Linked DNA regions of Homo sapiens: all the other regions are linked to region 1. Evidence: fine-mapped expression QTL. A gene starts in region 1. Each other region holds a variant in brackets. All regions are shown on one strand. Distances are from middle to middle.

Region 1 (7,626 bases):
ACCGTGATGATCCCAAAGGACAGAAGCATGGTACCCACGCCGGCCGTGCCACCAGCTGCATCAGGGATTCTGGTGTCATTAAAGGTGGTGGCCTCTGGGCTGAGGGTAGTGGTCTCGGAGGCTGGCCCATCTGTGGCAGGTTCCAGGTCAGACTCAGAGGTGGGTGGGCGGCTGCTGAACCAGCCCCTAGCAGATGCGGTCCTGGAGTTCATGCTGATGCGGAGAGGGCCCTGGCTGAGAGGCTGCCTGATGCCAGTCAACCTGCCCACTCACTCCTGACTCCGGAGTGCCCCAGCCTGTGGTTCCTGCCACCTGTGGTGGCCACCTGCACAGCCACCTCCTTGGATAAAGGGAGCCCCCTGCCTTCCTGGGTGCTAGAAAGGAAAGAATAAGAAACATGAGGCTAAGGACAGGGGCTCAGTAGTGAGATGAAGTCTCTCTAGGTTCTGAAAGCACTGGGGAGGTAAAGGTTTGAGGGCAAGAATGAGGGTAAGTTCAGGAGACATTAGGACACATACTTTACGTATCTACGGTGCCCCTGTTTTTGGGAACAAAAATGAAGCCCTGCATCCTCTGTCTGTGGGTGAGATGATCATAGTGATCAAACCTGGAAGATATGAAAGGCAGCGGGGATGTTTGAAAGAAAAAGTCTCCCTCCCCTGATCAAAAACTCCCCTCAACCTGCGTCCCCATATCCCCCACCTCCCCATATCCACCTCCTCATTCCCTGCCTCCCACATCCCTCATCCTGCTTGGGGGAAAAAATACCACAGCTTTTTCCTTTCCTGGAGGGAAACACTTGCCCAAGAGTCAGACAGGCCTGTCTTTGAAACCTAGCTCAGCTGCTTAACTAGTGATCCCTAGAAAGTCACTCCACCTCTCTGTGTCTCCGTTTTCCTGAGTCTAAGGTGGGGATATTGAGAACATCCCCACAGGGTCATGGGGTTACAGAAATGGCAGAACAAACAGGTGTCGAAGAAAGACTTAGCTCAGCACAACCCCCATCCACAGTAAGCATCCACTACATGTTAGATTTTCTCCCCATGGCCAACCCAGTCACAAAGGGGAGCCAAGGGAGCCCCTGGACCCAGTCCACTGTATGGTCCAGACTATGCTTGGAGTGTGGGTGGAGGCTGATGTGGAAAGACCAGAAGACAAGAAGGAGAGAGAGGCTCTGGTTCTCTGGCGGGGCTTCTCCGCAGGCTCTCGGGGACATTGGACTGCCCTCCCCACCCACCAACAATAGAGGGGCTGCTAGGGTCAAGGAGAAAGGCGAGGCAGGAATGGAGCTCCCAGTGTGGGTGCCTTCTCTTCCTTTACCCTCCTCCCCTGGAAGCAGAGGGTGAGAGATTTGCCCAGTGCAGAGGGCCCTGGTTAAGGTGGGGTGGGAAGAGGTGCCAGCCAAGCTGCAGATGGGACGGCCTAGGGAGAGGAGGGATACCTAGCTCGTGGGTGCATACATCCCCCTGTGCTGGTTCATGGGCATTAGTGGGGTTGCCTCCCTGTGCAGATGCATGGGCGTGTGTGAGATGTGTAAACACCTCTGATGGTCCCTGAGGAAGGGGCAAGGCTGGCAGAGGGTTATGGGGTAGAAAGGCTCATCCCTCTTTGCCTTCTCCCTCCAGCTAGGCTGGGCACATCTGGGCACATAGGAAGTCCCGGGTTCTTTTCTTGGCTTTGCAACTGATCCCGGGCGTGACCTTGGGCCAAACCCTTAACTCGTGCCCTGGGGCTCTGTTAACATCGCCTCCCAAAGGAGAGAAGAGGCCCTACTGACCACTTTCCAGGCCTGCCTCAGGGTCCAAAGGGGAAGGGAAGGAAACCGGGGTAAAAGGGGTCGGCACCGCGACCTTCGAGAACCCGCATGCTGTTCTCCACCAGGTCTCTCAGTCCTCCCTGCCCCAATCCCCATGCCCGCCTCCGCGACCCTGTGATGCCTCCCTTCTTGCACAGGAGCAGTGACCTCAGCACTTACTTAATCCTCTCCCGGCGCCGAGCTCAGTTGGAGAGGCTAGGGGTGGTAGTGACTGGCAGGAGGCCGGGGCGGGGGGAACCCCCAAGCCCGGCGTCTGGGGCTGCGGGTCCGACCCGAGATCCGCCCTCCCTGCAAGCCCCGAGCCGCTGGCCAGGCCCGCTACTGCGCACCAGCCGCATCCGCGAGCGCTGGCTCTGCCGGCCTGAGCTAGGGTGGGTAGGGCCGGGACCCACGGCGGAGGTGGGGCCGGGCCGAGCAGCCTCGGGGGATCCCCGAAGCTACAGCGCCTTGCCTCCCTGCACGCTCCGCGCCCCCGGCCTCCGATTGGCTGTCGGGCCTAGAGCCCGCCCAGAATTGGACCGTTCGCTTGTCGCTCGGGTCTGGCTCCACCCCCAGAGGGAGCCTAGAACCTGGTCGCAGTTTTTAGAGACTACCCTCACCCCGTGGCCTGCGCCGAAGTTGGGCGGAGGACAGTGGGTGGCCAGGCCCTTCCGGGCCAGAACTCGGGACCCCTGCCAGCTACCCGTGCCAGGACAGACTCAAGCCCCCAAAACGCGGATGGATGTACAGAGGAGACTTGGGGAGAGCACTGGACTGGGAGTCCTTGGGCCTGCACTGAACTCTGGCTGACTTTGTGACCTTGAAGAAACTGCTTTTCCCTTCCTGAACCTTGGCTTTCTACTCAGACGGGTCCTCTGGTGTGAGGGTTCTAGACGAAGATGGGGAATCTTCGTCTACAGAAGTTGAGAGTGGGGTGGATTTATTATTGGGCACCCCGACCCAGGCAAGTCTACATATACCCTCACAATAGCTTCCATCCACGGCATGATCAGCTCAGGGAAGGAGCCCTCAGATACTCCTGATCCGCCGGTTTTCAAAGTAGTTTATGGGAGTCACCGGGTAGCCTGGTACAAATGCAAACGCCCCTGTGTCTCCCGGTCTGGGAAGGAGGCAGGGAAACAGCATGTTTAATAGCAGTTTAAGGCCGGGCGTGGTGGCTCACTCCTGTAATCCCAGCACTTTGAGAGGCCGAGGCGATGGATCACCTGAAGTCAGGAGTTCGAGACCAGCCTGACCAACATGGTGAAACCCTGTCTCTATTAAAAATACAGAATTAGCCGGTCGTGTTGGCTCACGCCTGTAATCCCAGCTACTTGGGAGGCTGAGGCAGGAGAATGGCTTGAACCCGGAGGCCGAGGTTGCAGTGAGCAGAGATCGCGCCATTGTACTTCAGCCTGCGCAACAAGAGCAAAACTCCGTCTCAAAAAAAAAAAAAAAAAAAAAGAAAAAAAGAAAAAAAAAGTAGTTAACAGTGTTCTAGTTAACAGTACTTTCTGGTGGGGAGATGTTGACAAGACACACTTTGCGAGACGCTGCCGAGTATTTTATAGAAGGCGCAACTGAGGTCCAGAGGTCCCAACACCTGGAGGAGTTGCCAATAGAGTCAAGATTCGAATCGGTAAAAGAGCGGCCCCTGGGGTCTGGCCGCCAGTCGGCCGACCCCCTGGTGGGCTCGGGCCACTGACCTCGGTAGGGTCACGACACTGGGACTGGACCCCAAAGTTGGACCAGCCTTCAACACTGGAACCCGCCCATGCACAGCTCCACCCGGCCCCCAGGCTAAGATAGACCACGCCCCCGGACATCTGGTCCCCGCCGGAACACCCGGGCCCTCTGGTGACACGCCCCCTTTCCGGCAGGCTACTGGGCTCCGCCCACACACCTCCCGGCCTGGTTCCTAAACGCCAGCTCGGAGCAATCCCCTTGGGCTGGAGCCAAATCCCTGCTGTGATTTTAAGGAAGACCGGCAGGTCCGGGCCCCCAAGGGTCAACCCCACACACATCCCCGCACTTTCCTGTATGCAGGCCTGCGAGCGTAGAGGGAGTGGAATTCACAGCCTCCCCACCCATCCGCAGGGGTCTCCTGGGAGGAACCCACCAGCGATAGGAACACTGAAGCTGGGCTACGGCGTCCGCCCGAGCCTTTTCTTAAAGGCGCCGACCCCGGAAGCGGGGCGTCCGAGGGAGCGCGCGACGGGCCACGCACGTCCGGGCGTCCAGTTCGGGGCAGCTTCTCCGGCTGGTGGGTGGGTGGGGCAGCCTTTCAGGCAGGTATGCATGGGAGGTGGGGATCGGAACGGGGTGTTTCGACTGCAACCGCCTGGAGACCTGGCCGGTACCATTCTCCATAGTGCAGATGGGGAAACAGGGTTGGAGAGAGGGGGCCTCATCTGGGTCGTTAACAATGCGGTGCGTAGCTGTGAGGGAGTTTACACTTCTGACTTCGGGCCTTGGCTCCTGGGACGGCGCACTGGTGCAAGAGCCGCTTCTGGAGTCTGGTGGACTCGGGTTCGTGTCTTGCCTGGGACAGTCTTTTTTTTCTTTTTTTTGAGACGGAGTCTCTCTCTGGCACCCAGGCTGGAGTGCAGTGGCATGACCGCGGCTCGCTGCAACTTCCGCCTGCTTGAACTGGGTTCAAGCAGTTCTCCTGCCTCAGCCTCCCAAGTAGCTGGGACTACAGGTGCGCGTCAGTATGCCCGGCCAATTTTTTGTATTTTTAGTAGAGACAGGGTTTCACCATGCTGGCCAGGCTGGTCTCGAACTCCTGACCTCGTGATCCGCCCACCTCGGCCTCCCAGAGTGCTGGGATTACAGGCGTGAGCCACCGTGCCCAGCTTGCCTGGGACAGTTTCTACCTGAGTGACGCTGGGCAAGTCGCTTCCCTTCTCTGACCCTACTTGTATCTGAAGATGTGGCACTTAGCAGGTGCTTAATAAACGCTAGTTTGGACTTTTATCTGGAAGCAAAGGGGACCGCTGATTTTAAACCTTCAGTTAAACTTGCTTGTGACCTCTTTAAATATACAATTGTAAATTTTTTAGTTGGTGGTTTACGCTGATGTCCCGGATTATAGGTTAAATTAGGAGGAAATTTTCAGCATGTACATCCATGACAGTACACACACAATGTCAGATTCAAAGCTCCCAATTAAAGGCAATCATCTGCCTCTTGTAACATCAGTTAAGATCATGTAACATCTGGTCCCTGCTGTGTGTTGAGCTGCCTCCCAGGCCTTGGATATTCATAGACTAATGCATTGCTTGCCATGGGTTTGGTGTGATTTTCCCCCATCTTATGGATTAAGAAAGTGAAAATCAGAAATAATGACTTGCTCAAGATCACACACGCTAGGTTAGACACAGATCTGTCCTGTCCCCACATATGTGCCCTAACCTACCACCAACCCGTTTATTAGCAGAGACTGAGCTATGGGCTCAGCCCACTCCAGCTAAAAATGTGAAGAAAACGTAAGTGGCCAAGACAAGAATGATCAAATAGGTGGGTAAGGCTCTAAATGGAGTCAAGGGGGTGTCAGAGCAAGAGCACAACTATTCTCAGGCAATGTATTGGTAGAAGGGGGGGTGTCATACAAGGCTCACCTGCTTTCCTGGTTCCTCTCACTCCCAGGGTGGCAACCAACTATATCTGAGGACCAGAGCCATTTTGGGGCACCAGAGCTTGTGACCTCTCCATCTCCACCCAGCTGGGTCCAGGGGCCACTCTCAGCACTCACCTCAGCAGCTGACATCATAAAGCAGACTTGGGAACCTGGAAGCACTCTGGAGAACCTTTCCCTGAGACATGGAGCTTTGGGGCCGAATGCTGTGGGCCCTCCTGTCTGGCCCAGGGAGGAGGGGAAGTACCCGGGGCTGGGCCTTCAGCTCATGGCAACCCCAACCACCTCTGGCTGGGTTATCCAGTGCCATAGAACTGGTCAGCCACTGGACTGGGGTCTTTGAGAAGAGGGGTATCCCTGAGGCCCGGGAATCCAGTGAGTACATCGTGGCTCATGTCCTTGGAGCCAAAACAGTTAAGTTTAGTGTTGTCAAGAGGACAGGAAGAGGGAGGAGGGAGGACTTGGGGAAGGGATATCCAGGTTTTCTGTTCACTAAGAGTGCTTAGCTGAGACTGATGGGATTTTTCTGAAGGAACGTCTTAGCGCCTGGCACACACTGTAACAGTTTGTTGGATGAATGAATATATCTCTGCCTAAGTGTTCTGGGATAGACACCTGGAAGCCTGGTGTTAGCTGTGTAACCTTAGGCAGGATGCTGCCCCCTCTGGGCCCAGATGATGAGAGGGTTGGGCCTCCAGACCAGTGCTGGGCAGGCATTATCCACATAAGACACCTGGGTTGGGGGCCTTGGGCCCAGTGAGCCAGCCACTTATATTCTCTGTGGGGACAGTTTCAGAGCCTGAGGCCGGCACTTTGGACCCAGCCCTTGACCTCTCAGCAACTACAGTGTATCCGGGAGCTGAGTAGCCGTCGATTGCAGAGGTGAGCACCCATGGATCAGACCTGAAGGATGTGTTCAGGGAGCAGCAGTCCAGCCTCCCCTATCCCCACCAAGTTCAGGGAGGAGGAGAATGTCCAAGGACTAGGGAGGTGTTGGGGTGCAGGAGTGGCAAGAGTGGGGCCGGGGTACTGAATAGGAAGAAGGGAGGGAGGGAGGGTTTTGCCTCAGGAGTCCCAAGGCCCTGGAGACATGGTCTTGCCTGATACCTTTGGCCACAAGTGGTATCTCAACCCAGGCATGGTCCTGTTGGTCCTAGCTCTGTCCCTGATGACCACCCAGCTGCCCCCTCTGCAGGATGCCGGTGCAGTACATCCTTGGAGAGTGGGACTTCCAGGGGCTCAGCCTAAGGATGGTGCCCCCAGTGTTTATTCCTCGGCCAGAAACAGAGGTAGGTGTGCCACCAGGGCAAGGCAGGATCAGGATGATGGTGGAGTTCAGGGCACCAGTCTTACCCCAGGCTTCCTCCAGGGGGCACTGGGGCCCCATGACTTCAGGGACAGTGCCTTTCTAGACATGTATTTCCTCTCTGACTGTGTTGGCAGAGCCCAGAGGACAGAGGATTCCTGTTGGTCCCCTTGACTGTTATGTTCCAAGCTATCAACCCAGCCTCTAGGTCTGGCAATGGCCCAGAGTGCCTCAAATAGTGCTGCCCAAGTACTTAGCCTGTTCTGCCATTTCTCTGGGAGCCATCCCATGGCTCACCCAACCCACAGGGAACAAATGTCTTCCAGCAGCTTCTCAGGAGGCATGGAGGAAGTGGAGAGGGCTCCAGCCGGACACCTGGAGACCTGGTATCAGCTGTGCAACCTTGGGCAGGTCACTGCCCTCCTGCCATCTCTGGGCCCAGATGATGAGAGGGTTAGCCCTCCAGCCCAGAGAATCTGGTGGCCCTCTTAGGTCTACTGACTGGTCTGGTAATCACCTGTGTTGTCCCTCAAATTACTAGGACTAGGGATGTGTGGCGCAAGTGTGTTATCCCTTGGTAAGGCACCCTGGTCCTGGAAGAGACGCTTTATATGGCCCTTCTTGGACTCCCCTCTGACCTTGTAGATGACAGAGCTGGGAGCCAGAGGGCGCAGACCAGGGAGTAGAGCTGGGTGAGAGCTGGTGGGCAAGCCAGAGGGCGCCAGGTTCTGAGAAGGAGTGTTTCTAGAAAGACCTAGGCACACAAACATTTCTGGGAAAGGTTAGTTCCCATTCCCCTGCTGTGGCCAGGGGGCCCCAAACCCTTCTTTCACTTTCTCAGCTTCTGTCCCCTAGCCAAGAAACTCTCTGACCCCTCTCCTCTCCATA
Region 2 (7,626 bases), 930 kb after region 1:
AAGATGGTAATACATTCCAACGTGGTCTACAAATAAAATGCAATCGCTATCAAAATCCCAATGACAAACCAGGCATGGTGGCTCACGCCTGTAATCCCAGCACTTTGGGAGGCCAAGATGGGTGGATCACCTGAGTTCAAGAGTTCAACACCAGCCTGGCCAACATGGTGAAACCCCATCTCTACTAAAAATACAAAACATTAGCTGACCATGGTGGCAGACGCCTGTAATCCCGGCTATCTGGGAGAATGAGGCAAGAGAACCACTTGAACCCAAGAGGCAGAGGTTGCAGTAAGCCGAGATCGTGCCACTGCACTCCAGCCTGGGAGCAACAGAGAGAGACTCTGTCTCAAAAAACAACAACAACAAAAACAACCCAATGACATCTTTTGCAGAAATGGACATGCTGATTCTAAAATTCGTATGTAATTGCAAGGAAACCTGAATAGGCACAACAATCTTGGAAAAAAAAAAAAAAAAAACAAAGTCGGGGTCAGGCGCAGTGGCTCACACCTGTAATCCCAGCACTTTGGGAGGTCGAGGCAGGTGGATCACAAGGTCAAGAGATCGAGACCATTCTGGCCAATATGGTGAAACCCCATCCCCAGTAAAAATACAAAAATTAGCTGGGCGTGTTGGCACGCACCTGTAATCCCAGCTACTGGGACAGCTGAGGCAGGAGAACCGCTTGAACCTAGGAGACGGAGGCTGCAGTGAGCCAAGATTGCGCCACTGCACTCCAGCAAGGCAACAGAGCGAGACTATGTCTCCAAAAAAAAAAAAAAAAGTTGGAAAAATCACACTTCTGATTTCAAAACTTGCTACAAAACTATAGTAAATGGAACAGCATGGCACTGACATAAGGATCAACACAGAGACAAATACAATAGAATTGATAATCCAGCAATAAGCACTCACATCTATGATCAATTTTCAACAAGGGTACCAAGACCATTCAATAGGAAAAAAGTAATTTCAATAAGTAGTGCTGCCCAGGTGCAGTGGCTCATGCCTGTAATCCCTGCACTTTGGGAGGCCAAGACAGGCAGATAACTTGAGCAGGAGTTCGAGACCAGACTGGCCAACATTGTGAAACCCCATCTCTACTAAAATACAAAAATTAGCCAGGCATGGTGGCGCGCCTGTAACCCCAGCTACTCAGGGGGGCTGAGGCAGGAGAACTGCTTGAATCCAGGAGGCGGAGGTTGCAGTGAGCTGAGACAGCGCCACTGCCCTCCAGCCTGGGCGACAGAGCAAGACTCCATCTCAAAAAACAAACAAACAAAAAAGTACTGATGAGACTTGGCACAGTGGCTCACGCCTGTTATCCCAGCACTGTGGGAGGCCGAGGTGGGCAGATCACGAGGTCAGGAGATCAAGACCATCCTAGCCAACATGGTGAAACCCCATCTCTACTAAAATACAAGAAATTGGCCAGGTGTGGTGGCACACACTGGTAGTCCCAGCTACTCGGGGGGGCTGAGGGAGGGGAATCGCTTGAACCTGCGGGAGGCGGAAGTTGCAGTGAGCCGAGACTGCACCACTGCACTCTAGCCTGGTGACAGAGCAAGACCCGTCTCAAAAAAAAAAAAAAAGTAGTGAGACAATTGGATATTATCCCACAAAACAGCGAAGTTGGATCTTTGCCTCACAGTATATGCGAAAATGGGCCGAGTGCTGTGGCTCATGCCTATAATCCCAATACTTTAGGCAGATCATCTGAGGTCAGGAGTTTGAGACGAGTATGGCCAACAAGTTGAAACCCCATCTCTACTAAAAATACAAAAAAGAGCTGGGCATGGTGGCAGGTACCTGTAATCCCAGCTACTCGGGAGGTTGAGGCAGGAGAATCACTTGAACTCGGAGGGGACGGAGGTTGCAGTCAGCCGAGATTACCCCAATGCACACCGGCCTGGGCAAAAGGAGTGAGACTTTGTCTTAAAAACAAAAAAAAGGCCAAGAAACGCATGAAAGATACTCAACATCAGTCACTAGGAACTGCAAATCAAAACCATAATGAGATATCATTTCTCACCTACTAACATGACTGTAGTTTAAGAAATGAGAAAATATAAGCATTAGCAAGCATGTGAAGAAACTGGAACACATATTGCTTGTAGAAATGTAAAAGGGTGGCCCCGGGCGCGGTGGCTCATGCTTGCAATCTCAGCACTTTGGGAGGCCGAGGCAGGCGGATCGCGAGGTCAGGAGACAGAGACCATCCTGGCTAACATGGTGAAACCCCATCTCTACTAAAAATACAAAAAATTAGCTGGGCGTGGTGGCAGGCACCAGTAGTCCCACCTACTCGGGAGACTGAGGCAGGAGAATGGCGTGAACCCGGGAGGTGGAGCTTGCAGTGAGCCGAGATCGCGCCACTGCACTCCATCCTGGGTGACAGAGCAAGACTCCCTCTCAAAAAAATAAATAAATAAATAAAAGAAATGTAAAAGGGTATAGTAGTTATAAAAAACAGTTTGGGACTCTCTCAAAAAGTTGCAGGTTTTTTTTTTTAAGTCACATGTAGAATTACTATACGACCCAGCAATTTCACTACTAGATATATACCCAAAAGAACTGAAAACAAGGCTGGGTGTGGTGGCTCACACCTCTAATCCCAGCACTTTGGGAGGCCAAGGCGGGCAGATCTCCTGAGGTCGGGAGTTTAAGACCAGCCTGACCAACATGGAGAAACCCCATCTCTACTAAAAATACAAAATTAACCAGGCATGGTGGCACATGCCTGTAATCCTAGCTACTGGGGAGGCTGAGGCAGGAGAACCGCTTGAACTCAGAAGGCAGAGGTTGAAGTGAGCCAAGATTACGCCATTGCACTCCAGCCTGGGCAATGAGCGCAAAACTCCATCTCAGGGGAAAAAAAAAAGGAATTCAAACAAAGACTTATACACAAATGTTCTTGGTAGCATTATTCACAATAGCCAAAAAGTAGAAACAACCCAAAAGTCCATCATCAGATGAAGAGATAAACAAAATGTGGTATATGCATACAATGGAATATTCAGTCATAGAAATGAATGAAGTAGTAACATGCTACAGATGTGGAAAAACCTTGAAAACAATAAGAAAGCAGACACAAAAGGGCACATATTGTATGATTCTATTTATATAAAACATTGAAGGCTGGGCATGGTGGCTCACACCTGTAACCCCAGCACTTTGGGAGGCCAAGGCGGGTGGATCATGAGGTCAACAGTTCGAGACCAGCCTGGCCAACATGGTGAAACCCCCGTCTCTACTGAAAGTACAAAAATTAGCCGGGCGTGGTGGCATGCGCCTGTAGTCCTAGCTACTCAGGAGGCTGAGGCAGAAGCATCGCTTGAACCTGGGAGGCGGAGGTTGCAGTGAGCCAAGATTGCGCCACTGCACTCCAGCCTGGGCGACAGAGCGAGATTCCGTCTCAAAAAAAAAAAAAAAGTTGAAATAGGTAAATCAATATACAGAAAGCTAACTAGTAGTTGCCAAGGACTTGAGGAAAGGGGAAAATGGGCAGTGACTGCTAAATGGGTATGAGGTTTCCTTTTTTTTTTTTTTTTGAGATGGAGTCTCACTCTGTCGCCCAGAGACTGGAGTGCAGTGGCAGGATCTCGGCTCACTGCAAGCTCCGCCTCCCGGGTTCATGCCATTCTCCTGCTTCAGCCTCCCGAGTAGCTGGGACTACAGGCACCGGCCACCACACCCGGCTACTTTTTTGTATTTGTAGTACAGACGGGGTTTCACCGTGTTACCCAGGATGGTCTCAATCTCCTGACCTCGTGATCCACCCGCCTCAGCCTCCCAAAGTGCTGGGATTACAGGTGTGAGCCACCGCGCCCGGCCGAGGTTTCCTTTTAAGGTGATAAAAATATTCTAGAACTAGAAAGAGATAATGGTTGCACAACACTGTGAATCTACAAACGCCACTGATTTGTACACTTCAAAATGGGTAGTCGTTAATTTTATGCTACGTAAATTTACCACAATTTTTTAATGAGAAAAGAAATGATCCAGAAGAGACTGCTTCTTAGATAACTTAAGCAGTTAGCCTACTAGAGCACATAAAGACATGATTTTTTAAAAAACACTACCTCTAATAAAGATTAATTCAAGGGCATTAAAACACTAAAATTTTATATTTTTAAAATTTTTTAATTTTTATTATTTTGTAGAGACAGGGTCTCACTATGTTACCCAGGCTGGTCTCAAATTGCTGGGCTCAAGCAATCCTCTCCACTTGGCCTTCCAAAGTGCTAGGATTGTAGACATGAGCCACCATGCCTGGCCTAAAACACTAAAATTTTAGAGTTCAACTTAGAAACATATACATATATACTTCTGGTATCATTTTCAGAACTTCCAACTAATCTATGCCTGAAGATAATTATAACTTTGGGAATAACCATTTGCCCAAGGAAAATATAAACCTTAGTGAGACCTTGTCTCTATTATTTAAAAAAATAAAAAATAGGCCAGGCGTGGTGGCTCACGCCTGTAATCCCTGCACTTTGGGAGGCCAATGC[G/A]GGTGTATCATCTGAGGTCAGGAGCTCGAGACCAGCCTGGCCAACATGATGAAACCCTGTCTCTACTAAAAATACAAAAAATTAGCCGGACGTGGCAGCAGGCGCCTGCAATCCCAGCCACTCGGGAGGCTGAGGCAGGAGAATCGCTTGAACCCGGGAGGCAGAAGTTGCAGTGAGCCGAGATTGCACCACTGCACTCCAGCCTGGGCGACAAGAGCAAAACTCCATCTCAAAAAAAATATTAAGAATAATAAAGAATAAAAAAATATAAAGGCAAGGCGTGGTGGCTCACACTTGTAATCCCAGCACTTTGGAAGGCTGAGGTAGGAGGATCACTTGAGCCCAGGGGTTTGAGACCAGCCTGGGTAACAGTAAGACCTTGTCTTTATTATTTAAATACATAAATAAAGGAAAATATAAACTTGTAACAGACTAAATAAAGGAAAATATAAACTTGTAACAGACTTAACTAATAATAGCAATGTGAATTAACATAGTATCAATGAAAGCAGTCAGCAACTGAGTGTGGTGGCTCACACCTGTAATCCCAGCACTTTGGAAAACCTAGGTGGGCAGATCGCTTGAGCCCAGGAGTTTGAGACCAGCCTGGACAACATGGTGAAATCCTGCCTCTATGAAAAAAATTTAAAAATCAGTAGTAGTAGTACTTACTTCAATGTTCGTTTTTTTGTGTTTGTTTTTTGTTTTGTGAGACGGAATCTCGCTCTGCTGCCCAGGCGGGAGTGCAGGGACACAATCTTGGCTCACTGCAACCTGTAGTCCCAGCTACCTGGGGAGGCTGAAGCAAGAGAACTGCTTGAGCCTAGGAGGTGGAGGCTGCAGTGAGCCATAACTGCACCACTGTACTCCAGCCAGAGCAAAAGTGCGAGACCTTGTCTCAAGGAAAAAAAAAAAAGGCCGGGCACAGTGGCTCACACCTGTAATCTCAGCACTTTAGGAGGCCAAGGCAGGCAGATCACCTGAGGTTGGGAGTTCGAGACCAGCCTGACTAATATGGAGAAACCCTGTCTCTACTAAAAATACAAAATTAGGCCGGGCGCAGTGGCTCACGCCTGTAATCCCAGCACCTTGGGAGGCCGAGGCCGGCAGATCACAAGGTCAGGAGTTCGAGACCACCTGGCCAACATGGTGAAACCGCATCTCTACTAAAAATACCAACAAAATTAGCCAGGCATGGTGGCACACGCCTGTAATCCCAGCTGCTCCGGAGGCTGAGGCAGCAGAATCGCTTGAACCCAGGAGACAGAGGTTGCAGTGAGCCGAGATCGCGCCACTGCACTCCAGCTTGCACAACAAGAGCAAAGAAAACAGTCATCTTCACCTTGTTATGCCCAAGACAATAAGGGTGCATTACTCAAGTTCTTAAGTGAGTTCCTTTAAGTGCTATGAAGAAATGATGGTCTGTCCAATGGTGACACGGTAGTTACCAATTAGTGAATATCTAGTATGGGACAGACATTGAGCTAAGTAATTTACCATACTTACATTATTCTGAATTTTCACAACCATCCTACCCTTTTTCACACATGAGGAAACTAGCTCAGAGAGGTCCCCAAGACCAGCTAGTACTAGGTAGAAAAAAGGTTTCAAGGATTCAAATCCCAACTCTGCTGACATACCTGTGAAGTCTTGGTTATTTAACTTCTCCAAATCTCAATTTCCTTATCTGCAAGATGGAAACAGTTGTTGTGCGGGGTTAAATGACAATATTGTCCCCATGATGGGATAATATAAAGCCTCAAGAAATACTTATGTAAAATTTTCTTATCCTAACAAGCATCTGCTAGGGTATTTAGGGATGACAGGCCTGCAACTTATTTTCAAATGATTCCACAAAATATATATATAGATACCACACACACAAATAGAGAAAATATGGCATAATATTAACAACTGTTTGCCAGGCACTATGGCTCATGCCTGTAATCCTAGCACTTTGGGAGACTGAAGTGGGTGGATTACTTGAGGCCAAAAGTTCAAGACCAGCCTGGCCAACGCGGCAAATCCCCATCTCTACAAAAAATAAAAAAATTAGCCAGGCGTGGGGGCACACACCTGTAATCCCAGCTACTCCAGAGGCTGAGGCATGAGAATCGCTTGAACCTGGGAGGCAGAGGTTACAGTGGGCAAAGATCGCACCACTGCACTCCAGGCTAGGTGACACAGGAAGACTGTCTCAAAAAAAATAAAAATAGGCGGGCACGGTGGCTCACGCCTGTAATCCCAGCACTTTGGGAGGCCTAGGCGGTGGATCACGAGGTCAGGAGTTCATGACCAGCCGGACCAACATGGTGAAACCCCGTGTCTACTAAAAATACAAAAATTAGCTGGGCATGGTGGCACGCGCCTGTAGTCCCAGTTACTCGGGAGGCTGAGGCAGGAGAATCGCTTGAACCCGGGAGGTGGAGGTTGCAGTGAGCCGAGATTGCACCACTGCACTCCAGCCTGGGCAACAGAGCAAGACTCCGTCTCAAAAAAAAGAAAAAAAAATTTTTTTTAAATTGACAGGCACAGTGGCTCAAGCCTGTAATCCCAGCAATTTGGGAAGCCAAGTCGGAAGGATTGCTTGAGGTCAGCTGGGCAACATTTTGAGACACAGTCGACACAAATATTTAAAAATTAGCCAATCATGTTAGCCTGTGACTGCGGTCCTAGTTACTCAAGAGGCTGAGGCAGCAGGCTCCTTTGAGCCCAGGAGTTGTTGGAGGCTGCAATGAGTTATGATGACACTCGAGACCATCATGGCTAACACGGTGAAACCCTGTGTCTACTAAAAATACAAAAAATTAGCCGGGCGTGGTGGCAGGCACCAGTAATCCTAGCTACTTGGGAGGCTGAGGCACGAGAATGGCGTGAACCTGGGAGGCGGAGCTTGCAGTGAGCTGAGATCGCGCCACTGCACTCCAGCCTGGGCAACACAGTGAGACTCTGTCTCAAAAAAAAAAAAAAAAAAAAAAAAAAAAAAAAGCCAGCGCAGTGGCTTACATCTGTAATCCCAGCACTTTGGGAGGCCGAGGTGGGCAGATCACGAGGACAAGAGCTTGAGACCAGCCTGGCCAATATGCTGAAACCCCATCTCTACTATAAA
Region 3 (7,626 bases), 97 kb after region 1:
ATCGCTTGAACCCGGGAGGCAGAGGTTGCAGTGAGCTGAGATCGTGCCACTGCACTCCAGCCTGGGAGACAGAGTGAGACTCTGTCTCAGAAAAAAAAAAAAGGGATGGTCACTGTGTTGAATGCTGTTGCACAGGAAAAGTAGGATGAAGACAGAGAAGCAATAATCAGATTTGCCACCACAGACATCCTTGGTGGCCTTGGCATGGACGTTTCAGTGGAACAACAGGGCTGGAAGCCCAAATGGGGAGAAATGGGAGCTGTAGATATGGAGGTAGAGACAGTGAGTGCAGTGAAGGGGAGTGGCAGCCTTTTTCCAGGCACCCCACGAGGAGCCTTGAGCTCTGGGCTTCTCCTCTGGCTGACCAGAGCCCTCAGGGGCCATAGAGAAAGATAAAAATGGGTCCTATGTTCTGGAAGTCAGGGCCTGGGTTGGCCAGAGTGGATGAGTAGATGAGCTAGGCTAGGAAGGATGAATCAGGTACAAGAATCCATGTTCAGTCCTGTCACAGCTCTCTATCACAAGAGCCTAGCTTTGAAAACTACTCCCTGCTCATTAGCAGGAAGGATGAGCTCCAAAGAGGGTGGGCTCCAGAGTACAGGGTTGCCAGTGCTGCCCAGCTCCATGTCCCGTCTCTGTGTATTATTCTCTGAGAAAGTGATACGGCTGTACACAGGTAAATGTGTCAGAGAAGCAACACATAATCATTGGGAAATTGCAGAAAGGAGGAAAGGGTCTCTTCTTGGTATATTTTACTCTGGTTTGTATCTGCACGTGATTGTTCTTGCATAATTATAACCACACTGTGAACAGAGTTTTGGGCCTGATTGTTTTTTGCTGAATGTGACACACTAGACATTCTTTTTGTTGATAGATTGATTTCATGGTTGTTATTGGTTGCATACAATTGCATGGGGTAATGTCCCATGTTCAATAACTTCATCCCCTACTGGTAGTCATTTGGATTATTTCCAATATTTATAGACAATGTTACATTGGATATCTATAGAAATGAAACTTATCTCAATCCATTTTCACAGAACTAACATTTTTTGGGGGAAGTTCTTGATACCCACTTGCCACAGTGCTGGTGGGAGGGTCACCTGGACCCACCCTACTTCAAATAAGTAGCCTACTATTACACTAACTGCTTGCACACAGTCATTAATTTTTTTTTTTTTTTTTGAGATAGAGTCTCGCTCTGTCGCCCAGGCTGGAATGCAGTGGCGCAATCTTGGCTCACTGCAAGCTCCGCCTCCTGGATTCATGCCATTCTCCTGCTTCAGCCTTCTGAGTAGCTGGGACTACAGGCGCCCGCCACCACGCCCGACTAACTTTTTGTATTTTTAGTAGAGACTGGGTTTCACCGTGTTAGCAAGGATGGTCTTGATCTCCTGACCTCGTGATCTGCCCACCTTGGTCTCCCAAAGTGCTGTGATTACGGGCTTGAGCCATCGTGCCCGGCCCATTAAAATTTTTTTATTTGGGCCAGGCACGGTGGCTCACGCCTATAATCCCAGCACTTTGGGAGGCCGAGGCGGGTGAATCACTTGAGGTGAGGAGTTCGAGACCAGCCTGGCCAACATGGTGAAGCCCTGTCTCTACTAAGTAAATAGAAAAATTAGCCAGGTGTGGTGGCACGTGCCTGTAATCCCAGGTGCTCAGGAGGCTGAGGCAGAGAATTGCCTGAACCTGGGAGGCAGACACTGCAGTGAGCTGACATCGCACCACTGCATCCATCCTGGGCGACAGAGTGAGACTCCATCTCAAAAAAAAAAAAAAAAAAAAAAAGGCCAGGTGTGGTGGCTCACGCCTGTAATCCTAGCACTTTGGGAGGCAGAGGCAGGTGGATCACGAGTTCAGGAGATCGAGACCAACCTGGCTAACATGATGAAACTTCGTCTCTACTAAAAAAAAAAAAATACAAAAAATTAGCCGGGTGTGGTGGCAGGCGCCTGTAGAGCTACTTGGGAGGCTGAGGCAGGAGAATGGCATGAACCCAGGAGGCGGAGCTTGCAGTGAGCACCAACACGGTGAAACTCTATCTCTACTAAAAAAAAATACAAAAAATTAGCCGGGCATGGTGGCAGGCGCCTGTAGTCCCAGCTTCTTGGGAGGCTGAGGCAGGAGAATGGCATGAACCCAGGAGGCGGAGCTTGCAGTGAGCTGAGATTGCGCCACTGCACTCCAGCCTGGGTGACAGGGTGACAGAGTGAGACTCTGTCTAAAAAAAAAAAAAAGAAAAATTTTTTATATGATAGGCCAAAGAAGGGGTCTTCTTGGCCTGGCGTGGTGGCTCAAGCCTGTAATCCCAGCACTTTGGGAGGCAGAGGCAGGTGGATCATGAGGTCAGGTTTGGGACCAGTCTGGCCAACATAGTGAAGGCCTGTCTCTACTAAAAATACAAAAAATTAGCCAGGTTTGGTGGTGTGTCCCTGTAATCCCAGCTACTTGGGAGGCTGTGGCAGGAAAATTGCGTGAACCCGGGAGGCAGAGGTTGCAATGAGCTGAGATTGTGCCACTACACTCCAGCCTGGTGACAGAGCGAGACTCCATCTTAAAAAAAAAGAAAAGAAAAGAAAAGAAAAGAGAAGGGGTCTTCTTGTGGCTTCAATTTGTCTTTCTTTGGTAGTTAAAGAAGATGTTCATTTTCCTATCTTTTCATTTACTATTCTATTTCTCCTCACGGGAGGAAGCAGTTTCCATCAGGTGACCCAAATTTGTACCTTTCCCCGTGGGCTCTCTGAATGGCTCATCAGCCCTGCTAGGGCTGTTCTCACCAGCTAGAATGATGCAAGGTCAAATCTCTGTGTCCTCCTACATTGTCTCCACGCCTTCAGCCGGTCTTCATGGTTGCACTCTTCCTTCTAAATGCCTCATAGCAGCCTCCTGGCCTGCCCCACAGACTCCTCTAAGCCAACATTGACTATCCCCAGCCACTTCCCCTGGACCCTGAAGAGCCTTCAGAAAATATACTTTGACCCACTGACTAGTTTAGTCTCTACTGACTACTCAGAATTCTTCATAGTCTGCCTCCACCCACCTGCCACCCTGCCCCCACCCCCAAGGAAGTCTTGGGCTCTGGTCACACTGGCCTCGTCATTGCATCCCACTCATCTTGCTCTTCCTGCCTCTGTGCTTTGGTTCATGATACCACCCCCGAGAGTCATATCCACTTAAACTCATCCTCTGAGACCTTGCCTCCTCAGCCGAGCCTTCCCAGATTTTTCCAATCCACTCAGCCTCCCCTGCCTCTGAACAGCTGAAGCATTTATAGTCTATAGGGGCTCTCTGACAGGGTCACCAATAAGTAGTCCTCTTTCCCTCATCCAAGTTCTGAACAATGGAGAGATAAAAACTCAGATGGAGGCCAAAGCATTATCTTCTTTATTGAAGAAGGCTTAAAGGAGGAAGTGGCTTAGTGTGAAGTCACATGGGTCTGTGCTGGGCTGACTTTCCCCCTTCCCCTAGTCTCACTTGTTTTGGGTAAGTGAGGCCCCACACATCCCGGCCAGTGGAGACCGACACATAGAAGAAAGCATCGGAATGGGAAATCTGCCCCCCTCCTCACAGTTCATACCCCAGGAGCAAATGCTAAATACTGTCTTGAATTAACAGAGTTACTATGGGTTGGCCGGGCACGGTGGCTCATGCCTCTAATCCCAGCACTTTAGGAGGCCGAGGCGGGTGGATCATGAGGTCAGGAGATCAAGACCATCCTGGCTAACACGCTGAAACCCCGTCTCCACTAAAAAATACAAAAAACAGCTGGGCATGGTGGCGGGCGCCTGTAGTCCCAGCCACTTGGGAGGCTGAGACAGGAGAATGGTGTGAACCTGGGAGGCGGGACTTACAGTAAGCTGAGATCGTGCCACTGCGCTCCAGCCTGGGTGACAGAGCTAAACTCCGTCTCAAAAAAAAAAAAAAAAAAATAGAGTTACTATGGGTTTTGTTGCTTCAACTATGCTGGACCAACTATATGAGGTCCTTAAAGCCCAAGGTATGTGCAGCTTCTTATCTTCAAAGTGCCTTGGAGTAGGTGAAGAGGACTCCCTCTTAGCAAGCCCTTCCTTCTCCATGCACACTCACCCCAGTTAAGTCTAAAATTCTGTTCTGAGGACCTCATTTCCCTATGGACGCTGGTCTGAGTGTGCAGGCAGAACCATGGGAGCAAGCAGGGATATAACCAGTAATATTCACTCAGGTCTCAGTCAGGAGGGTGGCAGGGCCTTTCCCGAGGGCAGTCTTCCATGGGGGTGCAGGGCATGAAGGCACAATTGCCTTTGGTGCCTCTGTACTAAGATCAAGGAGAGAGTCAAACAAGAGGTTGGGATGGCATAGACATGTTTTGCTTAACTCACAATT[G/A]TGTCACAAGCCTCCTTTGGGCTTTTACTGGACTGATGATAAGTGATTGGATTATCCAAGACATGGGGATTAATTATTTTGGGCTGGACAGAAGAGTCCATGGACAGAGCTAGGTTACAAACTCCACTGCTCCACTGGCTGTTGCTTTCTGGAGGAATGTGAACTCTCATACAATTTGGAACCCACCTGGTAATGCCTGGATTCCAGAGCTGTGGGTGCACACACATCATTGCACCGTGTAGAATTAGAAAAAGATTTATCTAAAAATAACTACTGAGGAATATCTAATTTGATAGCAAGACTATGACTAATCCATGAAACAGACAGTCTGTGTGACAAGACACAGTACAATAATGGGGAGAAATTCATGTTTGACCTTTAAGCAAGTGCAAAATGAAACAGATCTATGCCTTGGCAGCTGAGGACCCTGTGGCTCTAGGGAGAGTGGCTGTGAGCAGGGGGTTTGATGGTCATGGAGGAGAACTGATGCAATATGTAGTTCTCAGGGGTGCTGCATCATGGAAATAGCTTAGGGAAATCAATTTCTTTTGGTGTTAAATAGAGAGAAGAGGCTCATGCTGAGTTAAGTGCTGGCTGGTAAGAGGCAGACGCAGGAGGCCAGCCCAGCTGCGCAGGGGTGACCAAACCAGCTCTCGCAGGCTAGCTTGGAGGAGAAGCAGATTCCACAAATGCAAGGAGACCCAGCATTTCTGGGAAGCAATTTGAGCTGGTAGGAGGGGAGCAAGGTTCCAAAGTTTAGTGAGCATTTACCTTGTGCCGGGCTCTGTGTTGAGAACTTTGCAGGCATTATCCTCAGAAGCATCCCTGATGTAGAAGCCATTCTGATTCCCACCTGACAGGAAGAAACTCGGTTCAGAGGGATTAAGCTACTTGCCTGGGGTCACCCAGCTAGGAAGTATCTATCTGGAGCTGGATGTGAACCCAGCTCTGACTCCAGAGCTCTCAAGTTCTATTCCCTGTTGCTAGGTCACCTGAAACTTGAAAAAGCCTGAGGCTGTCAGTGGGCTGGAGTGACAGACTGGGGCTGGGACAGGCTGGGTGCAAGTGAGGTTTTGGCAGGGGCCACCCCATGATGAGTTCTCATGAAAAATTGCCATGGCTCCTGGAATGGCAGGTTTCTGAATCAGGATCACTTCTCTGATTGTTCCATAACTCATAACTGCATATTATAAATTCTGATCCATCACCCTCAATGCTAATTGGAGAACAGAATAGTCCCCATTTCTTAGAGTTGCTCTTCTTCAGTGGTGACAGAGTGAGTACTATTCCTGCTGCTCCCTGGGTCAGGGCCCTGCATGTTCCGAGTACAAGTCCTAAGGTGTGATCTTGTGAGAGAATTCTCTAAAGATTTCTCTTTTTTGGCATCCTGTATTAAATGTTCCTCAAGGAAGAGATTAGCAGTAATCCTTGATCAGATTCAGGGCCAATTGCTTGTTGGTGCCCCTGGCAACATTCTTTCCCTGGACCCTTAGCATGGGCAGGGGTGTGAGGGACAAGCAAGGTGTTGAGACCACAGCTAAAGCAGTGGGTCACAGAACCTGGAGAGTGGGCTGTGTAGGGAGGTAAGCTGTGCTTCCCCTCCAAACCCGGGAGATGAGCGCTGGAGCCTGGCACAGATGTGCCATCTTGAGAACAAAGGAAAGATTGGCTCAAGGAGGAGAAAGAAGCCTGGAGTGGTCCTGTGTGAGCAGTGGTCCTAGATGCTTCTGCACAGACTTTGTTGGTGCTCAGAGAATTGGGGAATGTGCAGTGGTGCCTCTGAGCCCAGGACTCAAGAGGATAGGCCTTTTCCTAGGCTGTTCCCTCAACAAGCCCAGGATCTCCTTGAGGGGAGATCATGTTCTTATTCATGTCTCTTATCTCTGCTTCTGACCCAAGGTCTGTCAATGGCTGGTTCCCTAATGTCATGGGACGTGGCAAGGCCCCAGCGGCTGCCCCTATCTTCCACTCTAGTCCGCACATTTCTCCCCACTCCCCACTTGCTCGCTCACACATCATGTCCTGGTCACACTGGCCTTTCCATTCCTTGGATACGTTAAGCTCCTTCTTCACCAGATTCACCTTTCCCAAATGCTGCTTGCTCTGTCTAGAACACTTTTCTCTTCTTTACTTGGCTAATTTGTATGTATTGTCAGCCTCCAGTTTAAATATCATTTCCTCCAGGAAGTCTTCCCTATTTGCAAACTAGGTCAGAATCCCTGGCTGAGGCTCCCTCTGTACATGTACCCTTTCTCTTTCTCTTCTTTCCTAGTACTTGTATCTCTCTTCGTTTTTTTTTTTTTTTTTTTTTTTTTTTGATGGTGTTTTGCTCTGTCACTCACGCTGGAGTGCAGTGGTGGTGCAGTCTTTGCTCACTGCAACCTCTGCCTCTGTCTCCCGGGTTCAAGTGATTCTACTGCTTCAGTCTACCGAGTAGCTGGGACTACAGGCACCCACCACCACACCTGGCTAATTTTTGTATTTTTAGTAGAGACAGGGTTTCGCCATGTTGGCCAGGCTGGTCTCGACCTCTTGGCCTCAAATGATCTGCCCGCCTCAGCCTCCCAAAGTGCTGGGATTTACAGGCGTGAGCCACTGCACCTGTCCTTGTGTCTCTCATTAGATATTTGCTTGTGTGATTATTGGTTCAGTGTCTCTTCTCCCAACTAGATGCTAAACTCCATGAAGAGAGGCTGGGTGCAGTGGCTCGCTGTTTTTTTTTTTTTTTTTTTTTTTTGCTCTGGACCTGGCCCATAATAGGTGCTCAATAAATTTTTGGTAAATAAATGATTCAAACTTTTTACACTTCAAGATAAAAAGTATGAAAAGCTGGTGGGGATAAAGTCTCGGTTCTTTTCCTAGCCCCAGTCCCATAGCATTTCAGAGATGGGGTAGGTGGTGCTACACTACTCAACAGGCTTTTGTTTTTTAACTCATTTAACTCAAGTGAGTTGGTGAAGGCATTCAATTGGTGGTTTTTTATGTATAGAGAAATTACCTCTGTCCTGATTTGGAATATCTGTGCTATTTTGGGCTGTTTTTCTCTTTTGGGCCTGTTTGTATTGTAGCAATAATTTCACCATTTGGCTATGCAGAGGCCCAATTAATATTACAAATGTGGTCCTATAAAATGTGCTTTTTGACATCAGAACGTTTTGTTGCTAATTACTCTCCAAGGTTTTTAATTTCAAGCCCTCCTTGGTGACTTAGTGCAGAAATTTAAGGACATAATTATTTCCCCCCAAGGGAAAAGAGATCTAG
Region 4 (7,626 bases), 540 kb after region 1:
GCAGCCCCCACTGACAGGCTGCAGCCCACCCACACCCTTCCTCCACTGCAGCCTCCCCATGCCACTTTGCCTGCACACACGTCACCATGGCCGCTCTCTATATCACTTTGCAGGCATGTGTGTGTGTGCGTGCACCCTGCCATGCCACACCTGCCTACATGAGTGTCCTTGCCCTTGCTTCCCCCTGCCACACCGCCATTGTTTTCAGAATGTTGGTGGGCTCCTTTCCTCACCAGTGCCTTGCCCCTGCACCAGGGGTGCTGGCATAAAACTAGGCATGGAAAATAGTGGACTTGCCCCTAGCCCTGAGCAGCCACTGCTGCCGGCATCAACGCATACAGTGGATACACACAGTCCTGCTCCCACCAGTACCCTGCCCCCGTGCTAACACCACCATTGTGCAAATGTGAGCATAGTCACTAATAGGAGGGGGTGCCCCCCCCAGCCATACTTCAAATGCTTGAATGGAAGCTGGCACCTCAGTACCCACTAGCACCCTGCCCCAGCAGACAAGTGTGCTCCCCACTGCATTGCCGCTGCCATTGGCACATGAAAACAAGATCCCGCTGCCACCACCATATGAAGTACTTTGGTTGGCACCACCCAGCAGAGTGTTGTGACCAGCAGTCCCAGAGCACCTTGACCCCTCCAGTGCAGCAGATTCCTAATCTCAAGCCAGATTTCAAAGCCAAGCTTGATATCAGTTTCCAGAGTGAAACCAGACATTATAGAAGTCCTGAGCTGAGCCTTGGTCTCCTAAAATCTTCCAGTAATGAAGCTAGTTGACTGAACCCATCTTATATCACAATCAAACCCCCAAGGTCATTAAGTAGTATAAAAGGGAAAAAAAAACCATCCAAAGGATAGCAGGTTCAAATATTGAAGGAATATTAGCCCACAAAGATGAGAAAGAACCAGTGCAAGAACTCTGACAACTCAGAAAGCCAGAGTATCTTCTTTCCTCCAAACAATTGCAACAGTTCTCCAACAAGGGTTCTTAACTGGGCTGAGATGGCTGAAATGACAGAAATAGAATTCAGAATATGAATAGGAATGAAGATCATTGAGATTCAGAAGAACGTTGAAACACAATCTAAGGAAGCTAAGAATCACAGTAAAACAATACAGGAGCTGACAGACGAAATAGCCAGTATAGAAAAGAACATAACCAATCTGATAGAGCTGAAAAACACTCTAGAAGAAGTATTAACAGCAGAATAGACCAAGCTGAGGAGAGAATCTCAGAGCTTGAAGACTGGCTTTCTGAAATAAGACAGACAAGAATAAAGAAAAAAAGAATGAAAAGGAACAAACAAAACTTCCGATAAATATAGGATTATCAAGAGATTGAATCTGCAACTCACTGGCATCCCTGAAAGAGATCGGGAAAATGGAAAGAACTTGGAAAACGTATTTCATTATATCATCCATGAGAACTTCCCAACCTAGCTAGAGGGCCAACATTCAAATTCAGGAAATGCAGAAAACTCCCAGAAAATACTTCACAAGAGGATCATCCCCAGTACATGTAAGTCATCATATTCTTCAAGGTTGAAATGAAAGAAAAAATATTACAGGCAGCTAGAGAGAAAGGACAGCTCACCTACAAAGGGAAGCCCATCAAACAAATAGTGGACCTCTCAACAGAAACCCTACAAGCCAGAAGAGATTGAGGGCCAATATTCAACATTCTTTTTTTTTTTTTTTGAGACAGAGTCTTGCTGTGTTGTCCAGGCTGGAGTGCAGTGTCATGATCTTGGCTCACTGCAACCTCCACCTCCTGGGTTCAAGCAGTTCTCCTCAGCCTCCCAAGTAGCTGGGATTACAGGCACATGCCTGGCTAATTTTATGTTTCTAGTAGAGACAGGGTTTTGCCATGCTGGTATCATCATTCTTAAAAAAAGGAAATCTCAGCAAAGAATTTCATATCCAGCCAAACTAAGCTTCATAAGCAAAGGGGAAAGAAGATCCTTGTCAGGCAAGCAAATGCTGAGGAAATTAGTTACCACCAGACCTGCCTTACAAGAGCTTCTAAACGAAGCACTAAATATGGAAAGGAAAGACCATTGCCAACCACCACATACACACACTTAGGTACACAGACCAGTGACACTATAAAGCAGCCACACAAGTTAGCAAATAGCTTAAACAAATAAACACGAACACAGGATAAAATTTACACATTCACTACTAACCTTGGATGTAAATGGGCAAAATGCCCCAATTAAAAGGCACAGAGTAACAAGGTGGATAAAGAAGCAAGACCCAGTGGTATGCTGTCTTCAAGAGACCCATCTCACATTCATTGATACCCATAGGCTAAAAATAAAGGGATGGAGAAAAATCTACCAAGCAAATGGAAAACAGAAAAAAGCAGGGATTGCAATCCTGATTTCAGACAAAACAGATTTCACACCAACAAAGATCAAAAAGACAAAAGAGCATTATATAATGGTAAAGGGTTCAATTCAACAAGAAGACCTAACTATCCTAAATATATATGCGCTCAACACAGGAGCACTCAAATTCATAAAGCAAATTCTTAGAGACCTTCAAAGAAACTTAGACTCCCACACAACAATAGTGGGAGACTTCAACACCCCACTTACAGTGTTAGATCATCAAGGCAGAAAATTAGTGAAGATATGCAGGACCTGAACTCAACACTGGACCAAATGGATGTGATAGACATCTACAAAACTCCACCCCAAAACAACAGAATATACATTCTTATCTGCACATGGCACATACCCTAAAATTAACTACACCGTTAGACATAAAACAATCATCAGCAAATACAAAGCAAGCAAAGTCACATCAACCACTTTCTCAAACCACAGAGCAATAAAAATAGAATTCAAGAATAGGAAAATCTCTCAAAATCACACAATTACAGGGAAATTGGACAACTTGCTCCTGAATGACTTTTAGGTAAATAATGAAATTAAGGTGGAAATCAAGTTCTTTGAAACTAATGAGAACAAAGATACAACATATGAGGATCTCTGGAACACAGCTAAGACAGTGTTAAGAGGGAACTTTATTGCACTAAACACTCATATCAAAAAGCTAGAAAGATCTCTAACAACCTAACATCACAACTAAAAGAACTAGAAAAGCAAGAGCAAACCAACCTCAAAGCTAGCAGAAGATAACCAATACCAAAATCAGATCTGAAGTGAAGAAGATTGAGACACAAAAAAATTCAAAAGATCAATGAATCAAGATGATTTTTTGAAAAAAATAATAAAATAGTCCATTAGCTAGACTAATAAGAAAAGAGAGAAGACCCAGCCAGATGAAATGGCTCATGTCTGTAATCCCAGTACTTTGGGAGGCCAAGTCCAGAGGTCCAGGTGGACCACTGGAACCTGGGAATTTGAGACCAGCTTAGGCAACATGGCAAAACCCCATCTCTACAAAAAATACTAAAATTAGCCAGTCATGGTGGCACACACCTGTAGTCCCAGCTACTCGTGAGGCCAAAGTGGAAGGATTGCTTGGATCTGAGAGGTAGAGGTTACAGTAAGCCAAGATCATACCACTGCACTCAAGCCTGGGTAACAGAGTGAACTCTGTCTCAAAAAAAAAAAATTCAAATAAACACAATCTGAAATGACAAAGGGAATATTACCACTCACCGCATAGAAATACAGGTAACAACCAGAGAGTATTTTGAACACCTCTGTGCATGCAAACTAAAAAATTCAGAACAAATGGATAAATTCCTGGGTACATACACCCTCCCAAGACTGAACTAGGAAGAAATTGAATCCCTGAACAGACAAATGACAAACTCCAAAACTGAATCAGTAATAAATAGCCTACCAGCCAAATAAATAAATAAATAAATAAGCTCTAGACCAGACGGATTCACAGCCAAATTCTACAGATATACAAAGAAAAGCTGGTGCCATTCCTCTGAAACTATTCCCAAAAAATGAGAAGAGACTCCTCCCCAACTCATTCTATGAGGTCAGCATCATTCTGATACCAAAACCTGGCAGAGACACACCACCACCACCA[C/A]CAACAACAACAGACACTTCAGGCCATTATCCTTGATGAACATTGATGCAAAAATCCTCAACAAAATACTAGCAAACCAAATCCAACAGCACACCAAAAAGCTTATCCACTGTGATCAAGTAGGCTTTATCTCTGGTATGCAAGGTTGATTTCAACATACTCAGATGAATAAATGTGATTAAACACATAAATAGAACTAAAGATAAAAACCCCATGATTATCTCAATAGATGCGGAAAAGGCTTTCAAAAAAATTCAACATTTCTTCATGTTAAAAACTCTCAATGAACTAGATATTGGAGGAACATACCTCAAAATAATAAGAGCCATCTATGACAAACCCACAGCCAACCTCATACTGAATAGACAAAAGTTGGAAGCATTCCACTTGAAAACTGGCACAAGGATGTCCTCTCTCACCATTCATATTGAACAGATTGTTGGAAACCTGACCAGAGCAATTAGGGAGAACAAAGAATTAAAAGGCCTCTACGTAGGAAGAGAAGAAGTCAGTCTATCTCTGTTTTCAGATGACATGGTTCTATTCTAGAAAACCCCATAATCTCGGCCCAAAAGCTCCTTAAGCTGATAAACAACTTCAGCAAAGTTTCAGAATACAAAATCAGTGTACAAAAATCACTAGTATTCCTATACCCAACAACAGCTAAGCTGAGAGCCAAATCAGGAAGGTAGTCCCATTCACAATTGCCACACACAAAAATAAAGTATGTAGGAATACAGCTAATCAAGGAGGTGAGAGATCTCTACAATGAGAATTACAAAACACTGTTCAGAGAAATCAGAGATGACACAAACAAATGGAAAAACATTCCATGCTCATGGATAGGAAGAATCAGTATTGTTAGAATAGCCAAGGCAATCCTAAGCAAAATGGACAAAGCAGGAGACATCATGCTACTCTACTTTGTTGTTTTAAATACACTAACTTTAAAATATACTACAAGGCTGCAGTAACCAAAACAGCATAGTATTGGTACAAAAACAGACACATAGACCAGTGGAACAGAATAGAGAGACCAGAAATAAGGCTATACACCTACAACTATCTGCTCTTTGACAAAGCTGACAAAAATAAGCAATGGGGAAATGATTCCTTATTCAAGAAATGGTGCTGGGATACCTGCTTAACCATATGCAGAAGATTGAAACTGAACCCCTTCCTTATACCATATGTAAAAATCAACTCAAGATGGATTAAAGACTTAAATATAAAAACCCTGGAAGACAACCTAGGCAATACCATTGTGTACATGGGAACAGGCAAAGATTTCATGATGAAAACACCAAAAGCAATTGCAACAAAAGCAAAAATTGACAAATGGGATCTATTTAAAGAGCTTCTGCATGGGAAAAGAAACTATCAACAGAGTAAACAGACAACCTACAGAATAAGATAAAATTTTTGCAACCTGTGCACCCGACAAAGGTCTAATATCCATCTATAAGAAACTTAACACATTTACAAGAAAAAAACAACTTCAATATAAAGTAGGCAAAGGACATGTACAGTCACTTTTCAAAAAAAGACATACACGTGGCCAAGAAGCATATGAAAAATTCAGCATCACTGATCATTAGAGAAATGCAAATCAAAACCACAATGAGATACCATCTCACACCAGTCAGAATGGCTACTATTTAAAAGTAAAAAATAATAATAATAACAGATGGTGGTGAGGTTGTGGAGAAAAGGGAACACTTATACACTGTTGGTGGGAGTGTAAATTAGTTCAACCATTGTGGAAAGTAGTGTGGCAGTTCCTCAAAGACCTAAAAACAGAACTACCATTTGACTAAGCAATCCCATTACTGGGTACATACCCAGAGGAATATAAATCATTCTGTTATAAAGACACATGCATGCATATGTTCATTGTAGCACTAATAAATTTTTTGGAAAAAAGAATAGAGAAAAAATTATAAGTAAAAAAGCCAGACTCAAAAGGATACATATTGAATGATTTTGTTTATGTAAAGTTCAAGAATAGGCAAACCTGAACTATAGTCATGGTTGGTAGTATTCACTAGAAAGATCACAACAGAACCTTTTAGATGGTGGAATTAATTCTGCATCATGATATGCCATGGTGATTCCCTAAGCAAAAATTCATCAAGTTGTATACTTAGATTTGTGCCTATTGCCATATGTAAACTGTACTTTGGTACATTAAGAGAGAAAAAGAAAGATGGCATAGTTTGCAACCTGGATAGTGGAAGTGACAATAAAGATAAAAGGACACATTCAAGAGACTTGTTTTTAGAGGTATGTGAAGTGGGAGGGGCGACTGTTGAGTGTATGTAGAAGCCATTAGCCACAGGAGGGTATGCAAAAGGAGTGGACAGGTTTTAAACCAGGAGTTCTTAATCTTAAATGCACATACAATTAAAGTTTTTAATATCCTGGCCACTCTACAGATTAATTAAAACAGGATTTCTCAGATGATTTCAATGTGTAGGAAAGGTGAAGAACTAGTGCCTGTGACAGCTGAGCTCAAGGACTCTGTTGGATTTTGGGTAGAGCTGCTACATCTAAAAGGTATTAAGAGGGTATTATAAGTAATTTGTTACTAATACAGTGCTGATTTGAAAAACATTTACTTCTTATAAATTTGAGTGGATTTGAGATTATATCTATAATATTCTTCTTGTTTATTTATTCAAAACACATTGTATGCCCACCATATATAAGATATTGTTCCAGCTGCTGGGGATTCAGCATAAAACAAGACAGAGAAAATCCCTGTATTCTTGTAGTTTATGTTCTAGAGGGGGAGATAGAGGATAAATATATATATATATAACTGGCATGAGGTAAATTCTTCAAAGAAAATGAAGCAATGAGAATCACAGAAATAGGGCATGGCACTTTTTAAAGTAGGGCAGTTAGGCATGACCTCTCTAAAGAGGTGACACTGACTCTGCAGGTTATTAAAACATTGAACATTTCAGGACCCCAGTGACTGACCCCACAACAATTCCCCTTCAGTTGCCAAACTCTGGGCTTCCTCAGCCATTGACCTCTAGAAGACCCCAGTAATCTACTGGTATTGGCCCCCACATACTATTGCTAGAAGCTGTACCATCACTAAAACTCTGAAGCTTCTCGAACATTAATCCACGTACCAGAAACACTAATCCACCCTGACTCCAGAGCTGCTGACAGCTTCCCTTGGACTATAAATCAGACAGACTTCCAGTCATAAGACACTGAGACACTGCAAGACCCCAGATAAATCACTGGACTCACATAGATGTCTCCATCAGTGATCTAATATACCTGTTAATCCCTCATACCCCAACACTGATACTCAGAATTTTCCTGTATTCTGCAGTGCCCAGTAGTTCAACAAATCTTTTGTCATTATAGTTCTTTCAAACCTTGCTATTTGAAGTTTGATTCAAAGACAAATAGCGTCAACAAAATTTGAGAGTTTGTTAGAAATTGATTGTCACGGCCTGTAATCTCAGCACTTTGGGAGGCTAAGGAGGGAGGATCACTTGAAACCAGGAGTTTGAGATCAGCCTGGGCAACAAGCAAGACCCCATCTCTACAAAAAATAAGAATTAGCAAGGCATGGTG

What was found. PIP is the estimated chance that this variant, and not a neighbour inherited with it, causes the effect. A credible set is the group of variants that fine-mapping cannot tell apart.
Region 2: its variant is the best candidate, but not a certain one, in a credible set for the expression of HEMK1 in whole blood (TOPMed, PIP 0.51).
Region 3: its variant is the best candidate, but not a certain one, in a credible set for the expression of HEMK1 in whole blood (INTERVAL, PIP 0.72).
Region 4: its variant is the best candidate, but not a certain one, in a credible set for the expression of HEMK1 in nasal epithelium (TOPMed, PIP 0.58).

What each region holds. Positions count from the first base shown.
Region 1 is chr3:50,565,488-50,573,113 of GRCh38, forward strand. It overlaps HEMK1 (HemK methyltransferase 1, mitochondrial release factors N(5)-glutamine), which reads left to right and starts at 4,035. Exons shown (of 11, transcript NM_016173.5): 1 at 4,035-4,087; 2 at 5,444-5,845; 3 at 6,223-6,314; 4 at 6,628-6,721. The coding sequence starts at 5,618. C3orf18 (chromosome 3 open reading frame 18) reads right to left here and starts at 2,260. Exons shown (of 6, transcript NM_016210.5): 1 at 1,976-2,260; 2 at 519-607; 3 at 1-374. The coding sequence starts at 212. RefSeq lists a silencer at 1,892-2,401 and an enhancer at 3,840-3,959.
Region 2 is chr3:51,490,577-51,498,202 of GRCh38, forward strand. DCAF1 (DDB1 and CUL4 associated factor 1) reads right to left here. Exons shown (of 25, transcript NM_001387579.1): 2 at 6,158-6,204. Among named protein-coding and RNA genes, the nearest start is that of DCAF1, 5.6 kb to the right of the region's middle. The variant G/A (reference allele first, on the strand shown) is at 4,518.
Region 3 is chr3:50,662,336-50,669,961 of GRCh38, forward strand. LINC02019 (long intergenic non-protein coding RNA 2019) reads left to right here and starts at 7,104. Exons shown (of 2, transcript NR_183733.1): 1 at 7,104-7,626. The variant G/A (reference allele first, on the strand shown) is at 4,366.
Region 4 is chr3:51,106,350-51,113,975 of GRCh38, forward strand. The region is part of intron 9 of DOCK3 (dedicator of cytokinesis 3); the gene reads left to right. Among named protein-coding and RNA genes, the nearest start is that of MANF, 280 kb to the right of the region's middle. The variant C/A (reference allele first, on the strand shown) is at 4,027.